2 linked regions of the Homo sapiens genome follow. The protein of the gene in region 1 purifies or fractionates together with the protein of each later gene. This does not show direct contact. Each region holds a gene or a part of one and is shown on either strand. Other genes may lie near its edges.

The links. Proteins that work in one complex are often made in the same cells at the same time.
Region 2: the proteins of TMEM255B (region 1) and CSNK1G2 purify together in Homo sapiens (affinity purification with mass spectrometry; one large-scale study listed by BioGRID and IntAct). This does not show direct contact.

Annotation. Positions count from the first base shown.
Region 1 is NC_000013.11:113,814,361-113,817,495, forward strand, and holds the end of TMEM255B (transmembrane protein 255B), read left to right. Parts: 3' UTR 1-2,635; downstream 2,636-3,135.
Region 2 is NC_000019.10:1,965,172-1,968,671, forward strand, and holds part of CSNK1G2 (casein kinase I), read left to right. Parts: intron 1-3,500. UniProt on the Homo sapiens protein: Serine/threonine-protein kinase. Casein kinases are operationally defined by their preferential utilization of acidic proteins such as caseins as substrates. It can phosphorylate a large number of proteins. Participates in Wnt signaling.

The DNA.
Region 1 (3,135 bases):
CTCACCAGCTTCCCCCAAACACAACATCGATCTTTCCCGACTTTTAATCTTGTCTAGAGTCAAAAGCTGTTCAAAAATATTCAACTCCAAGGTCAACAGTTTTGTTCTTGCCACAAAAATGTCCTTATCCTTTATCCCAGCCACAAAGAATGTGAACAATTTGACTCAAGGTTCGTGGTGGCTGGAGGGTCCCCCAGGTCCCAGGGCAGCTCCCACCTGGCGCAGGGCTCCGGCCAATGCCTGGCCTGCAGTGTGGGCGGCGGCTGCTCTCGAGGTGCACCTGTCTCATGTGGACGGATCCTGTCTGGGGCCACCAAGCTCTGCCAGCCTGAGTCACGGTCTGATGAACCCCCTCTCTGGGCTCCGCTGGGGCCTTCTGATCCCAGCCTCCTCTGCAGGGATGGGCTCCCAATCCCGCCCTCACTTGGTTCCCATGCACAGCCGAGGTCAGTGAGACCCTGGAGGCCGCGGGAGATGGGGTGGAGGGGATGGTGGGGCAGGGGGTGCTGGGGGGTTTGGGGGTGCTGTGGCCCCGGGGCAGGGGGTGCTGGGGGGTTTGGGGTGCTGTGGCCCCACCTGCACTCCCTGCCTCACTGGGACAGCACAGGAGACAGGCTTCTCCTGCAGCTCAGAGGTGGGGGCCTAGTGTAGCTGCAGGTTGTGACTGAGGAGGGCAGGGTCAGAGCATTGCCCTGGGCAGGGGTCCGTTGAGACTGGCCCCACCTTATTAGCTTGGGACCTTGGGTTACAGGGAGTCTCCTCCTGCCTCAGTTTCTACATTTCACACAGCAGCACTGCTCACAAGAGCTCCCAAGCAGAGGCAACTACTGAGTGGGGGAGGGACACAGTCCGTCCACATGGGGCCAACGGCCACAAAGAGAGGAAGGGACATGGGTGACGGTCCGTCCACGTGGGGTCACCGGCCACGGAGAGAGGAAGGGACATGGGTGACGGTCCGTCCACGTGGGGTCACCGGCCACGGAGAGAGGAAGGGACATGGGTGACGGTCCGTCCACATGGGGTCACCGGCCACGGAGAGAGGAAGGGACATGGGTGATATGGTTTTGCTGTGTCCCCACCCAAATCTCAACTTGAATTGTATTTCCCAGAATTCCTGCGCGTTGTGGGAGGGACCCAGCGGGAGGTAATTGAATCATGGTGGCTGGTCTTTCCCGTGCTATTCTCGTGATAGTGAGTAAGTCTCACGAGATCTGACTGGTTGATCAGGATTTCCGCTTTTGCTTCTTCCTCATTTTCTCTTGCTCCTGCCGTGTAAGAAGTGCCTTTTGCCTCCCACCGTGATTCTGAGGCCTCCCCAACCATGTGCAATTGTAAGTCCCGTTAAACCTCTTTTTTTCCCAGTCTCGGGTATGTCCTTATTAGCAGTGTGAAAACAGAATACTACAGTGGTCCATCCACACGCGGGTCTCACCCAGCCACAGAGAGGGAGAGGACGTGGCCCATCCACACGCGGGTCACCCGGCCACGGAGAGGAAGGAAGCTCTAACGGGTGCTGAGGCTGTAACACACAGTGCTCAGGGAAGGACACCAGACATGAAGACTGTGTTCTGTTTATATGCAGTGTCCAGAGAAGGCGTGTCCACAGACAGAAGCCGACTGGGAAAGGAGGTGCAGTCACTGCTCAGGGACACGGGTTCTTTTCGGGGAGGCAAGCGTGTTCGCAGCGTGTTCTGTATGGGGAGAGATGCAGTCACTGCTCAGGGACACGGGTTCTTTTCGGGGAGGCAAGCGTGTTTGCAGCGTGTTCTGGATGGGGAGAGGTGCAGTTACTGGTCAGGGACACGAGTTCTTTTCGGGGAGGCAAGCGTGTTTGCAGCGTGTTCTGGATGGGGAGAGGTGCAGTCACTGGTCAGGGATACGAGTTCTTTTCGGGGAGGCAAGTGTGTTCTAAGCGTGTTCTGGATGGGGAGAGGTGCAGTCACTGGTCAGGGACACGAGTTCTTGTGGGAAGAGGAGTGTCCGGGAGCCAGATGGCAGTGATGGGTGGACGGCCCCGTGGATGGACTGACCACCGACCCATGCTCTGCACTCATGAGGCGTGGCTATTGCTGTGTGAATCACATCTCCATGGAAACGGGAGTGGGAGAAACGGGCCCCAAGGATGTTGTGAAGATGGCCTTATGGGGCTGCACTGGTGACTTGGACAGTGCTGGCCACCGGCCCTGCTCAGTGAACAAGAGCCATGGTCATCACCCTCGCCACACAGAGCAGCTCCTCCTGCAGACTTGGGGACCCCGTGGCCACCAGACCCCGCGGTGGGAGCAGAGATGCCTCCGAAACTCTGGAGACCCACAGAGGCAGAAGAGGATTCCACGAGGCCGGGGCCCGTCAGCAGATCCTCAGACGGCGACACGCGCCACTTCCTTTTCTGTTTCCTAGACCTTTTAACTGATGGAATTCAGTAAGCAGAAAACGTGCTTGAAACAAGGGCACCATGGAGCGGACCCTCCCCCTCTCCCCTCGTGGAGTCCTTGACCCTGGGGCAGGTGACCCTTCTTGCTTTGCAGGCAGGGGCTGTGGCTGGAGCTTCTCCTACAAATGGGCTGTGCTGGGATTAGCCCGGCTGTACATTTGCTTTATGCTTCCGTTGGCATTTAAAAATCTGATGTTCATATTTGCCGTATTACGTGAAGTAGGACGAAACGTTCCTTCTTGCTTAGAGCAGTGTTTCCCCAGAGGTGCCCGGGCCCAGGGGACAGTGGCCAACCTCTGGAGACATTTCGTGTTGTCATGAGGCTGGGTGTCCAGGAGGGGGCGATGCTGCATCTGCTGTGCACAGGACGCGGCCACATCAAAGGACCCCACCTGCAAAACACATGCCCAACCTCCTTCCTCCTCTCCAGCCCAGAGTCAGGGCTGTCCCCCCTCCCTCCAGGGGACACATCCCCCCTCCCTCCACGGGATACATCCCCCCTCCCTCCACGGGACACATCCCTCCTCCCCCCACGGGACACATCCCCCCTCCCCCCACGGGACACATCCCCCCTCCCTCCAGGGGACACATCCCCCCTCCCTCCACGGGACACATCCCCCCTCCCTCCACGGGACACATCCCCCCTCCCTCCAGGGAACACATCCCCCCTCCCTCCAGGGGGCACATCCCCCCTCCCTCCA
Region 2 (3,500 bases), on another chromosome or scaffold:
GATCACGAGGTCAGGAGATCGAGACCACAGTGAAACCGCGTCTCTACTAAAAATACAAAAAATTAACCGGCCGTGGTGGCGGGCGCCTTTAGTCCCAGCTACTCAGGAGGCTGAGGCAGGAGAATGGCATGAACCCAGGAGGCGGAGGTTGCAGTGAGCCGAGATTGTGCCACTGCACTCCAGCCTGGGCGACAGAGCGAGACTCCGTTTCCAAAAAAAAAAAAAAGATCATTGTTTCCATCCCTGCTAGCACAACATCCAGCCTGTAGCCTGTGGATCAATGAATGAATGAATGACTCGGAAATCAAGATGACTCCTTGACATGTCATTCATTCATTTATTTATGCATGACAAGGTGTCCCACTGTCACCCAGGCTGGAGTGCAGTAGCACGATCTTGGCTCACTGCATCCTCCACCTCCCGGGTTGAAGCAATTGTCTTTCCTCAGCCTCCTGAGTAGCTGGGGCTACAGGTGCGTGCCACCATGCCCAGCTAATTTTTATATTTTTTCATAGGGGGTTTCACCATGTTCCTCAGGCTGGTCTTGAACTCCTGAGCTCAAAGCAGTCTGCCCGCCTCAGCCTCCCAAAGTGCTGGGACTACAGGCCTGAGCCACTGTGCCTGGCCAAGTCTTAGTGTTTTTGAGGCACGGTCTCACTGTGTCTCCCAGGCTGCAGTGGAGAAGCAGAATCACAGCTCACTTTAGCCTCCACCTCCCAGGCTCAAGCGATCCTCTCACCTCAGTCTCCTAAGTAGCTAGGACCACAGGTGCGCACCGCCATGACTGGCTAATTTTGTTTTTATTTTTGTAAAGATAGGGTCTCCCTGTGTTGCCCAGGCTGGTCTTGAACTCCCGGCCTCAAGCAGTCTGCCTGCGTCAGCCTCCCAAAGTGTCGGGGTTACAGGCAGGAGCCACCGCAGCCGCCCATGACTCTCATTATTGAGAAATACATTTGTAAGGCTCTAGGTGCCTGTAGGTGCCGTGGAGAGCAATTCCTCTGATGGAGCTGGGGAAATTGGGTAAATTGAAACCCCCGGAAAGGCTTTGCCGTTCTAGAGGCTGTGAAGGACACGCGTGATCCATGGGAGGAGGTAACATGTCAGGATGAGCGGAAGTTTGGAAGAAGTTGGTCCCAGGCCTGAAAGATCACTGTGAGGGTTCAGGACTTCAGTGGAGGAGGGACTGTAGAGGTTTTAGAAGCAGCAAGAGAACTAGAATGAGAAGGACTTGGAGATGTGACTGCATTGTCGCTGTCTCGCGAGAAAACTTTAACACGTGAGGAGTTGCCTCTGAAGGGTGAGCAGGGGAGTTGCTTCAGTTGCGCTCTAGTCCCAGTGAAGATTCTGTGAACCTGGGGGTAATGAGGACAAAGAACTTGGAACAGCCCGGAACCTCGGTTGATGAAGCCGCGGCCGGGTTGAGAGGACCGACTGCAGTTCTGAAAGACGTTCTGCTGTGGGTAATCAATGCTATCAGACAGCATCACGCCCCACAGAGAAATCTTTCATGAAAGGAAGAGTCCATCGCTGTGGCCAACTTTTTTGTGGTCATAGTTTAAGAAGTTGCCCCAGCCTCCAGCAGCCACCGCCCCAACGAGTCAGCCGCCGTCCACATTGAGGCAAGACCCTTCTCCGGGGAGATTAGGGCCACTCCCGGTTCCCATGATCATTACCATTGCTTAGCAGTAAAGTATTTTTATTTCTTTATTATTTATTTAAGATGGGGTCTTGCTGTATCCCCCAGGCTGGAGTGCAGTGGTGCGATCATAGCTCACTGCAGCCTCCGCCTCCTGGGCTCAAACGATCCTCCCGCCTCAGTCTCCCGAGTAGCTGGGACCACAGGCTTGCACACCACGCCCCGCTTAATTAAAGTGTGTCCTTTGATTAGACACAACGCTACTGCACACTTCCTAGACCACGGTATACTGTGAACGTAACTTGTGTGTGCACTGGGAAACCAGAACATTCGAGCGGCTGTTGCCGTGCGGAACCCAAGGCCTGTGATCCCCACAGGGTGTTTCTGGCACCGGAACGCAGGGGCCACATCCAGGGGGGCAGTGCTTGTGACGCCGGTGCCTTCGTTTCTGATGTGGCTTACTCAGCTGGGAGTTCCTGTCCTAACATTTTCGGCGATGGCTGTGCACCCACGGCCCCTCTTCACCCGCGGCCCCTACGTCCTGCCGGTTGGCAGGAAACCTCTTCCCCTGCACATCTGGGGCACAGCAGCAAACTGTGGTCCCCCTTCTTCAGTGAGGGTGGGGCTTCTGTCTGTCTGGAGCCCTAGAATGGGGCCAGGGGTGGCTGGGGCCTGGGTCAGGGAGGACCCGGCAGGATCTGTGCAGACAGGCAGGTGGCTGCGGTGGCTCCCGGTGCAGGGTTCTTGGCCTCCTGGGCGGGTACCTGGCTTGAGGGCGACGAGGTGACAGCCGCGTCCCTGGGGTTGCACCACCCGAGCGTCCAGTTAACACCACAGCTGCCACCCTTCAGTTCTGCAGGTGGGGCTCCTCCCTCCTCCCCAGGCTGCCCCCACCACCCTTCAGTTCTGCAGGTGGGGCTCCTCCTTCCTCCCTCCTCCCCAGGCTGCCCCCGACCACCCTTCAGTTCTGCAGGTGGGGCTCCTCCTTCCTCCCTCCTCCCCAGGCTGCCCCCGACCACCCTTCAGTTCTGCAGGTGGGGCTCCTCCCTCCTCCCTTCTCCCCAGGCTGCCCCCGACCACCCTTCAGTTCTGCAGGTGGGGCTCCTCCCTCCTCCCTTCTCCCCAGGCTGCCCCCGACCACCCTTCAGTTCTGCAGGTGGGGCTCCTCCCTCCTCCCCAGGCTGCCCCCGACCACCCTTCAGTTCTGCAGGTGGGGGCTCCTCCCTCCTCCCCAGGCTGCCCCCACCACCCTTCAGTTCTGCAGGTGGGGCTCCTCCCTCCTCCCTCCTCCCCAGGCTGCCCCCGACCACCCTTCAGTTCTGCAGGTGGGGCTCCTCCCCAGGCTGTCCCTGACCACCCTTCAGTTCTGCAGGTGGGGCTCCTCCCTCCTCCCTCCTCCCCAGGCTGCCCCAGACCACCCTTCAGTTCTGCAGGTGGGGCTCCTCCCTCCTCCCCAGGCTGCCCCCGACCACCCTTCAGTTCTGCAGGTGGGGGCTCCTCCCTCCTCCCCAGGCTGCCCCTGACCACCCTTCAGTTCTGCAGGTGGGGCTCCTCCCTCCTCCCTCCTCCCCAGGCTGTCCCGAGGCTCCTTGCTGGGGACCGTCCTGCCTCCCGTCGGGGCCTGCGCTGAGACTGGGCTCCATGCCAGCCGGGGCTGGCTGGCCCCCTCGCTCCAGAGAGCGACCTGCACAGAGTCCCCTCAGCCATGAGCCCCTGTCCAGACACGGCGTTTCTCTGTGGGTGGCAACAGGCTCTGGGGCCCTCAGCTCTGGGCTCGGGAGCATTTAAGGTGGTGCAGACTCAGCGAGGGGCTGTGGGCTGGGGTCCCACCATCCCGGGAGCAGGGACTGCGTGTTCCTTCTCA